Regions from separate parts of the Homo sapiens genome. Here region 1 is linked to region 2. The links come from fine-mapping of genetic effects on gene expression. A gene starts in region 2. The other region holds a variant in brackets. All regions are shown on one strand. Distances are between the middles of the regions. Region 1 has its middle 3.4 kb from the start of ZNF211. Region 2 holds the start of ZNF550 (zinc finger protein 550).

What was found. PIP is the estimated chance that this variant, and not a neighbour inherited with it, causes the effect.
Region 1: its variant is fine-mapped to the expression of ZNF550 in lymphoblastoid cells after a statin (CAP, PIP 0.95).

The regions. Positions count from the first base shown.
Region 1 is chr19:57,627,106-57,632,487 of GRCh38, forward strand. No RefSeq gene overlaps it. Among named protein-coding and RNA genes, the nearest start is that of ZNF211, 3.4 kb to the right of the region's middle. The variant CT/C (reference allele first, on the strand shown) is at 3,231.
Region 2 is chr19:57,557,173-57,562,554 of GRCh38, forward strand. It overlaps ZNF550 (zinc finger protein 550), which reads right to left and starts at 2,691. Exons shown (of 4, transcript NM_001397372.1): 1 at 2,484-2,691. The coding sequence starts at 2,510. It overlaps LOC124904781 (a long non-coding RNA gene), which reads left to right and starts at 2,770. Exons shown (of 2, transcript XR_007067357.1): 1 at 2,770-2,946. RefSeq lists enhancers at 1,733-1,812, 1,957-2,821, 2,263-2,312, 2,799-3,998, 2,943-3,052.

The DNA.
Region 1 (5,382 bases), 70 kb after region 2:
TCAGAGTATTAGGTCAGGGATGAAATGGAGGCTAATCCAGACACGTTATAAGAGAAAATATGGAATAGAGATTCTAGGGGCACTAAAGCAAATGCATGAGGTGGTCTATGCTTCTGAGTCCCTCATAGTATGTTCCTTCTGAGTATTTGTATTCTAAACCTCAAAATTACAATTTTTTGTATAACATTTCTTACTGGATTCTCCAAGATATAATCTACTTTTTGAAGAATATGACATTTATGTAGAAATAGTGGTTACTTACCAAACTGGTATTTGCTACTAGGAAAGTAGCATCAGTTTTTGGCATGGGCATCTGAACTCTGAGAATAAGGTTTGGGATTCCATGACCTCATCTCCTTGCTGGGAAGTGATGGTCATTTTATTCTTCCACCTGTAATTGCAGTGACAGTGTCTCCAAGAGGATTGGAGATGATCTCTGAAAAAAATTTTTGAAGTTAGAAAATTGTAGAAAGTTATTAACATTAATTACTGGAGTTATCCATTTAGAATGACATCATACCTAAAAGAGAAAATTATCTGTGAAATGGGAACAAATAAAGGTAAATAGAGGAAACAGTTCTAAGACATGGGACATGTAAGTTGAACCCTTGGTTATGCTGGAATCTTGGCTCCTATGAAATTTTTTTTTTTTTTTTTTTTTTTTTTTTTTTGAGATGTCTTGCTCTGTCGCCCAGGCTGGAGTGCAATGGCGCGATCTCGGCTCACTGCAACCTCCGCCTCCCAGGTTCAAACAATTCTTCAGCCTCAGCCTCTCAAGTAGCTGGGATTACAGGCGCCCACCACTGCACCTGGCTAATTTTTGTATTTTTAGTAGCGATGGGGTTTTGCTATGTTGGCCAGGCTGGTTTTGAACTCCTGACCTCAGGTGATCCGCCCGCCTCGGCCTCCCAAAGTGCTGGGATTACAGGCGTGAGCCACCGCGCCCAGCCGAAATTCTTATTTCTACAAAGTCTGACATTTTTTCATTCATATGAATGGTGAGGAATAACAAACTTGGAAGGAAAGAAATAGTAAAAAGAGAGTGAGAGTACAAAGGTGAAAGAGTTGAGGGAAAGCATTACTCAACATCTTATCTGGTTCAGAGGCTCATCTAGATTTGTATTTACAGCAGTGAACAACCTACAAAGAAATGTATTCTCAAGTAGGCTTTATTCAAATTAAGAGATGTGGTCTGGAAATAATAAAGAAAATATTGGAAAATATACACTAAGTTATAAAGAGACAGATTCTATGGAAAATATCAGAATACCAGCACCAAGTAATAACGAACACGTGAAGTAGGTAGAATTTCTATAGGAAATTTCTATAGTCAGGGTTGTCCTTATAGTGGAGATAATATTTGAGCATATATTTAAAGCACAGCAGAGAGAGAGTGATTTGTAAACACAGAGAAAATGTGCTATGGAAAAGAAATAGCCAGTACAGTGTCCAAAAAGCCTGGAAGTGAAAAATCATGTGGTCAAAGCACAATTCAAGAGTGACTGGTGATGGTTTTTATACCATCAAAAATCTCCCCAATGTGCACAATTACCCATGTATCCATTCACATGCCATTATCTCAGACCTCCTTGTCAACTGTCTTCTCAAACATATTCTTCCTTGCCCTTGATCACATTGCCAGGTCATGGACTGCTATCCTGTAAAATACTTGTTCTTTGGACACTTATTCCTCCTCATAAAAAGGTTTACAAGGTATGCCACTTGTGACTTCACCTATGGGGAAAATTTTGATCCCCAACTATCTTTCAAGAGGATGCAGAATATGGCTCTGAGGCAGCCACAGTTTTGTTTTGTTTTTTTTTTTTTGAAATTTATCTTTTTTTCCCACCCTGCCTTATGGTGCTGACACAATCTTTTTTATTACTAGGTTTTTAAGAGCACTTTTAGGTTTGCAGTAAAATTAAGGGGAAGGTAAAGAGATATTCCATATACTCCCTGCACCTACATAAGCATAGCGCCCCTCACCCCAACCGCAGTGGCACATTTGTAGCAATTATAAACCTACACTGACACATCATTATCATCCAAAGTCCCTACTTTACTTTAGGGTTCACTCTTAGTGTTGTACATTCTATGTGTTTGGACAAAGGTACAATGACACGTGTCCACTATTAGAGTGTCATCTAAAATAGTAATCCTCTGTGCTCCACAAATTCATCCCTCCTACCCTTCTAAACCCCCAGCAACCACTGATCTTTTTACTCTTTCATACTTTTACCTTTTCTCAAATGTCATTAATTGGAATCATACAGTATATTGCCTTTTCAGATTGGCCTCTTTCATTTAGTGGTATGCATACAAGGTACCTCCATGTTTTTTCACGTCTTGAAGATTCATTTACCTTCAGCATTGAGTAATGTTCCATTGTCTAGATATACTACAGTTTCTTTTCTTTCTTTGTTTCTTTTTTTTTTTGAGACGGAGTCTCGCTCTGTCGCCCAGGCTGGAGTGCAGTGGCGTGATCTCGGCTCACTGCAACCTCCGCCTCCCGGGTTCACGCCACTCTCCTGCCTCAGCCTCCCGAACAGCTGGGACTACAGGTGCCTGCCACCATGCCCAGCTAATTTTTTTTTTTTTTTTTTTTTTTTGTATTTTTAGTAGAGACGGGGGTTTCACCGTGTTAGCCAGGATGGTCTCGATCTCCTGACCTCATGATCCGCCCACCTCGGCCTCCCAAAGTGCTGGGATTACAGACGTGAGCCACCACGCCTGGCGATATACTACAGTTTCTAATCCATTCACTTACTGAGGGACATTTTTGTTGCTTCCAAAGTATGCCAATTTTGGATAAAACTGCTATACACACACATGTACAGGTTTTTGTGTGGACATAAATTTTCCACTCATATGGATAAATTCTGAAAAATATGGTTACCGTATTGTATGGTAAAAGTGTGTTTAGTTTTGTAAGAAACCACCAAACTCCATTTCAAAGTGGCTGTACAACTTTGCATTCCCGTCAGCAATGAGAGCTCCTGTTGCTGTACATTTTCTCAACCATTTGCAGTTGTCAGTGTTACAGAGGTTGTTCATTCTAATAGATGTGTAGTGGTATCTCAGTGCTGTTTTAATTTTTACTTCCCTGATGACATATGATGGGGATTATCTTTTCATACACTTATTTGCCATCTGTGTATCTTCTCTGGTGAGGTATCTAAACCTAAAGTCTTTGCCCATTTCGTTTTTTAATTAAGATGTTTCTTTTTTTT[CT/C]TTTTTTTTTTTTTGAGACGGAGTCTCACACTGTCACTAGGCTGGAGTGTCGTGGCATGATCTCGGCTTACTGCAACCTCCACCTCCTGGGTTCAAGCGATTCTCCTGCCTCAGCCTCCCAAGTAGCTGGGACTACAGGCATGCGCCACCACGCCCAGGTAATTTTTGTATTTTTTAGTAGAGACAGGGTTTCACCATGTTGGCCAGGATGGTCTTGATCTCTTGACCTTGTGATCTGCCTGCCTCAGCCTCCCAAAGTGCTGGGATTACAGGCATGAGCCACCAAGCCCGGCCCTGAAAAATTTACACAATTATACAAAACTTACTTAACCTATGCTTCATTACCTCATGAGGAGTACTGGGAAGTTTTGAGTACGTGCAATGGATGGAAACATTGAATTTGGACATAAAGAGTTGTGTCCTTTTTTTTTTTTTTTTTTTGGAGTCTTGCTCTGTCACCCAGGCTGGAGTGCAGTGGTACGATCTCGACTCACTGCAACCTTCACTTCCCAGGTTCAAGTGATTCTGATTCTCCTGCCTCGGCCTCCCGAGTAACTGGGATTACAGGTGCCACCACCACGCCCGACTAATTTTGGAATTTTTAATGGAGACGGGGTTTCACCATGTTGGCCAGGCTGGTCTTGAACTCCTGACCTTAGGTGATTCGCCCACCTCGGCCTCCCAAGGTGGGAGCAGCAATCACACCTGCTGGGATTACAGGTGTGAGCCACTGTGCCCAGCCAGTTATGTCATTTTTCACTAGTTTCTCAGTTGATTACCTGAAAGTATGAATTTTTAAAGCACAATAGGATTCAGCAGTCTCAGGTAGGAAAAAGGTAACCTGGAAAGATCCCTGCATGTGAATGCACACACAGCTTTCAGGGATCTGAGGAAATTCAGCATGTGTAGGATATAGAGGAGATACATGGTAGGAGGTGAAGCAATATGTAATGGTTGGTTCTGTAATATAGGCCCAGCCAAGAACTCTAACCTTTTTCCTAAAAACAATGACAAGCCCATTGTGAGATCTAACCAGATGTACAATAGTAGTCATTCCACTTATAAATTTTTGTAGTAAATGTGTAAACAAATACATTATATATTTGATAAAATCATTTCACAACTTTTAATTTTATTTTATTTTACTGGTATTAATTTGTCCTAAAGGATCATTTTTATTGTGAAACGTAAAATTTGATCTATCTAATATATATAAAATGTATATGTGTACATTTAACAATGTGCATATATGTACCTTAAAATAATATAAACTTTCTGGGCGACGGAGTGAGGCCCTGTTTAAAATAATGATAATAATTTGATATTTTATGCATTAAAAACTTTTGTCTGGGCATGGTGACTCATGCTTGTAATCTCAGCAGTTTGGGAGGCTGAGGCAAGAAGATTGCATGGCCCTAGGAGTTTGAGACTAGCCTGGGCCCTATAGGGAGACTCCATTCCTACAATAATTTTTTTTTTAACTAGCCGGGTGTGGTGGTGTGCTTGTAGTGCCAGCTACTCAAGAGGCTGAGGTGGGAGGATCACTTGAGCCCAGGAAGTGGAGGCTGCAATGAGCTATGATTGTTCCACTGTACTCCAGCCTGGACAACAGAGTGAGACCCTGTCTCAAAAAAAAATTAAATGTTTTGATTATACAAGGAAAATGAACATTCATGTATTAAAGCTTCATGTTTTATGAACAAAACTGACTTTGCAGGCAGGAGAGCGTTTTCTGGGGGCACCAGAAGCAGGGAACTTCCCTTGTCCGTTGGCTTCAGGGCTGCCCACTATCCCTCCACTATCTTCCCATTGTAGCCCTGTCTGGTGTCTTTTGTCCCTGACAAAACCTACAAAAAGTGACTTTAACACTTCAGGCTGCATGCATTTGAAGAGCAATAAGATAACGTTTTTTCGCTTCCCACTACCAGTGGAGATCTGCTGGGGTGGGCTGCATGGAATCTGAAATGATGTCTAAATACTGAAGTGAACCTCTACACTAGAGACTGATATACAGCTGACCCTTAAACGACGCAGGGGTCAGGGATACCGACCCCTGCGGAATTGAAAATGCTTGTATTACTTTTGACTCCCCTAGGTCTTAACTACTAATAGCCAACTGTTGCCCGGAAGCCTTATGAAGTTGCCCGGAAG
Region 2 (5,382 bases):
TTTGCAGTTGAGATAAGAGGAAGGCATCTGTCTCCTGCTTGTCCCTGGGAATGGAATGTCTTGGTGTAAAACCCGAGCGTACATTCTATTTACTGAGATAGGAGAAAGCCGCCTTATGGCTGGAGGTAAGACATGCTGGCGGCAATACTGCTCTTTACTGCACTGAGATGTTTGGGTAAAGTCAAACATAAATCTGGCCTACGTGCACATCGAGGCACAGCACCTTTCCTTAAACTTATTTATGACACAGAGTCCTTTGCTCACATGTTTTCCTGCTGACCCTCTCCCCACTCATTACCCTATAGTCCTGCCACATCCCCCTCATGGAGATGGTAGAGATAGTGATCAATAAATACTGAGAGAACTCAGAGACTGGTGCTGGTGTGGGTCCTCCATATGCTGAGTGCCAGTCCCCTGGGCCCACTTTTCTTCCTCTATACTTTGTCTCTGTGTCTTATTTCTTTTCTCAGTCTCTCATCTCCACCTTGCAAGAAATACCCACAGGTGTAGAGGGGCAGGCACCCTTCACTAAGTCCTCTGGTCCTCACTGTGTCCCTGCCAGGCTAAGGCTTCCTTAGCCGTGGTAAAGCAAATAAAGGCCTGACTTAAATCAGGCCTCCTGAATCTGACACTTGCCAGCTATGTGACTATGACGATGTCACATGATCTCTCTAAGGCTCGATTTCCGAATCAACACAATAACTATTCCCATCTCAGCAGGCAGCTCTAAGAACTAAACAGAAAATGTTCACTTAGGCAATCAGTGGAGTGCCTAGCACATGTAAGTGCCTGATGTGTTTGGGAACTTTATTAATCCCCTGACAGGCCCAGAGGTAAATGTCGTTATCACTTCCATTTCACAGTCAGCAAAGGCTCAGGGAGCTTTAGAAATCAGGCACAGCCTCACATTTAAAAAGCAAAAGCAGCATTTGAGCACCGCTAAAACACCTCACCAAGCTGCCAGAGAGCAGGCAGGTGGGAGTGAGGGGTGCTTTTAGCTACAGCCAGCACTGCCAGGATGGGTGTGGAACTGCAGCCCCGCAGAGACCTGAGAACAATGTCTCAGACAAAGGGAAGTGCAAGGGCAAAGGCTGAAAATGGGAAAGAGCTTGGCAAGCTCAGGATTCCCTGGATGAATGCAGTGAGAAAGGGGACAATGGAAGAGGAGAAAGAAGATGCGGTCAAAAGGGCAAACCAAGTACAGCCTTGCAGACCATGCTGGTAGGAGGGGGTGGATTTATTGGAAATGTGATGAGAGTCCCTATAAGAGAGGCCTATTCAATCATCAACCATTTATTAAGTACAATAAATGTACTTAAGCCTGGCTGTTCTGGGTCTTGGGAGAGGGAAGCAACAGGCACTCACATTCCAGGGTTGGAAAAAGATCCTAAACAGGCAACTAAATAAATGAGTAAGGCAATGTCAGATGGCCTTAAAGATTCAGATGACAAGAAAACAGAGCAAGGAGACCAAAGAGACTCTGGTCAGCTTTAAACGGTGCAACAGACGAGACCTCTTTAAGCAGCGGACACCAGAGGGAGTCAGAAATAAAGCAAAGGAGGGAGAGGTGGATGAGAAATTAACAACTACGACAGGAGCTGACAGTAATCTGGGCTATCATGAAAGTAATCAGAGTGACTGCTAGAGAGTAACCCTGGGCCTCATGTGTTATCTCCAAAGGGACACTACATCCTGCATACCATCGCCACTGAACATTTTAATGGACTCGTTTTTCACCTGTAACTAAATGTCTTAAACAGGAAAATATACTGTTAGTTGCAACCCAGCGTCCCTTGCCCTAAACTGAAAGACAAATTCCTCAGCCTGCCCTACCACCTTTTCTGCCCTGGCATAGCAGCAACCGCAGAAACGCTCCTCCCACCTCTTTCAGCCGCTGCCCTTCGTGTTGTAGAGACAGGAGGCCAAGGAGGCCAGAGGGTCAGACTCCTGCTGGGGTTGAGTCTCCAAACCTAGCACAGGCCCAGGGAGCAGCTCCGGAAACAACATCCTGAGCGACGTCCCCGGACCGTGCTGTGCACTGAGACGGACACACACACATCACCCAGGGAGCCGTTCAAGCTTCCTCAACCCCGGGGGGGGGAAGAGTAAATATTTCTACTTTGCGCGCGCAAAAATGAAGGACGAGGACAGTAACGGGACTTGTTCAAGGTCGCAGGCCCGAGAAAGGACATGGTTGGAAGAGCCACGAGGAGGACTGCGGTCGCTCCTCTCACCTGTGAGGGGTTCCGGGACCCTAAAAGCCCTATTTCATACCACAACGCCGCGCACCCCAGAAACGGGGACGCTCCCCACGCCACCGCGGGCCTGCATTCCGGACCCGGGACCGCGCGACCCCCTTCTAGGCCTCTAAGAAGCAACGGCAGGGACTGCACTGAGGACGACCCTGAAACGCCGTCCTTCCGCTCGTCGGGCCCGGGACACTGAGGCCGGGTGGCCGCGGGGAGCCGAGCCAGTCTGCTCACCTGCGCTGCGTCCTTCGTCTCCGCCATCCGACCGTTGGCAGGACGAGGCCGCGTGGGGCAGCTCCCACGGGCTCAAAACCCTACCCCGGGTCCTACAACGGTGCGGAGGTGAGCCCCAGTCGCCCTACCATCCTTCCCAGCACAGTTCTGAGAGCGCGGACCAACACGCCCCACCACAAACGTCCACGCCAGCGAGGCCGGAAGTCCCGCCCCTGTGTCGCGGTCGCCTGCCACGCCTTTTCCTGCGCCGGCCCACTGCCTTCTAGGTAATGTAGTCTTGTCCCGTAAGAGGCCAGGCTTGGCTCTTTTTCCTTTTTTATTATGCACACCATGTTTCTGTATATCTCAGATGATCTTAGCGGAGCAAGTGTACACACTGGATTGTAAATTTTTAAAACTTCCTATTATTCGGATGCCTCAACGTCCCTACAAGCAGGCTGTGAGCACTCGCCCAGGCACCCAGGTAAACGAGTTTGATAAAGGGGGCCCTGCCACGAGGTTCCCCGCTTGCCTCCTCTGAGTGACCCAGTGACATTCCCATGTACCAGTAAAATCTTACGCCTGGTTACTGCGTCCTCCTCCACCCTGACGCCAGGCACTGTCCCTGGGACTGGCGTGGATCTGGACCCCCGCTTCCCGCGTGGAGCCATTCCCGGGACATGCTCGTGGGGTTCCGTCTGTGGGACGTCTGCCTCCTCTGTGTGGACTGGTGTTGCCCAGGGCTCAGGAAGGTCTCCAGGGGCCGTGAGTCCCCGCCCGCTTCCGGAGTCCAGCTTCGTGACACCATCGTGAGAAAGAATGCAGGGATGAGTCAAAATGAAGCCAAAGGCAAGAAGCTTTTATTGGGAAGAAAAAGTACACATTTTTGAGAAGAGTGTACTTTTCCCAAGAGAAGAGGGAAATGCGGACGTACGAGGGAGAGCGGGTCATGCACAATGGAGTTTGGGTTTCTAATTTTATGGGCTCTTCTAATTAGGGGGTGGGATAATCATGAGGTTTTTCTAGGAAAAGGTGGGAATTTCTTAGAATTGGGGTGCCAACCATTTTTATACTAAATGTGGGCGTGCTTGGATTGGCCTGGCACTGGTGGGTGTGTGATTTAATGTGGCAATGAGTGTATAATTAGGTCTGGGGTAGGAAATGGGTCAAATCTAGCGTCATGGGACAGCCTAGCCCCAATCCTGTTTGTTAAGGTCTCATCAGCCCAGTCTTCTTGTTGGAGTAGCTAATTTTAACAGCTTGATGTTTTCCCCCTTCTCCTGTGACCACACAGCATTCCTATTTTGTGGGTGTTTCTTTAATTAGAGAGTGGAATAATTATTAGGTATTCTGGAAAAGGAGGGAAATTCAGGGACCCACCTGGTTACTGCCCCCTTTCTCTCTTATTTGGCTTTGCCCAGAAGAGTCATGGACATGTCATCCTGACTGGGATTTTGGCCATTCTTTCTCTTATTTTGGGTTTTCTGTTATCCTATGGTTTCTTTGCCTAGTTCTTGTTTTTATTTGTTGTTCGAATTTTTCCATCCTCCTGCAACCACCCAGTGCTATTCCTATATCACTGTGAGTATAAACACCCTTTAACCTTATAGGCTTCTTGAAGTATAATTCCCAAGACCATGTTGCAGTGGTCCTTAAAGAACCAATAAGGCAGAGAGAAACAAACATGTTCCAAATTTTGTTCTCAGGAGTAAACCTTACTCAATTGTTAAAGGCTGTAGCTAGCTCAAAAGAAGTTTCCTTGACTCTGAAAAACAAAACAAGGATCAGCAATGTTCCAAGCAAAAGTCAAAAAGATTATTTCAGTTTTTCTATTAGTTCAGCCTATTCTGTTAACTCTTGTTCTGCTTGATATTTATAAACATTTTAGCTTTTCATGAGTCCTGTATGTTTTTCAGTTATCAGAAACCTGCATTTAGGAATACCTGTTAAAGTATTCCTACATCTGATTATGAACCATATTTTGAAGAGGATTAAAACAAGACAACAATTGTCTGTAAATGACAAAATGTCCAGGGTGGTTAGTCAAAAACATGATTGACAAAAAAAATTTGGTTATCTCCGTGGTTTACAATAACAACATAACAACCTTAATTGTGGTTGATAGTGTATACTTTCACATTAGAGTTTTCTAAATCCCATGCAGTTTTGGAACACATATTAATAGTATTTGCTGAAATATAACCTGAAGAAGATTAGACATCATTTTGGCAATCCCATGTAACAAAACATGTCAAATAATCCTGCTTGCCTCTTTTCTGGATGCCCCAGGGACCCTCTGTAGCATCCAAAACGTAGGTGTCAAGAAAGACAATTGATTTGTGGAAGCCTGTTAAATATGTTAACAGGCTTAAAATATTTGATGTTATGTACTAGAATTCCAGATTACTATAAGTTATTTATTTTGCCAAAATGATGACTCAAAAATTTGAAAAAGCAAAAACCTTTCATTAGCCTTTACTATTACATGAAAATTGTGTTCAAGAGAGAGAAAGCCAAATTTCACCCTTACATTAGTGTACTATTAATGTCAACCACAATTTTTAATGAAACAATTATAGGCAATTCTATCCAATCTTAACCAGTTTGACAATGAGGTGAGATTTTCACAAACCTTTTATAACCCTTTACAAATTTTGCTAAAGAGTAGATTCATGCATTAAGAGTTCTTTGTTGTGCTTTTATTTCAATGCTCAATTTACAGAAAACCACATAATACCCTTTTGAATGTAGTCAATATATTCACACAGAGTTTCCTTTGCAAGATTAATTCTTACAATTTTTTCCCCAGTTTGCTTAAACCTTCAGTTGTATTTTATCTACTTTAAGACAATTCTTTATCCCTAGGCAAAACGTACATTGCCATGCCTTCTTATAATTTTTTACAAAAAACACATTTTAC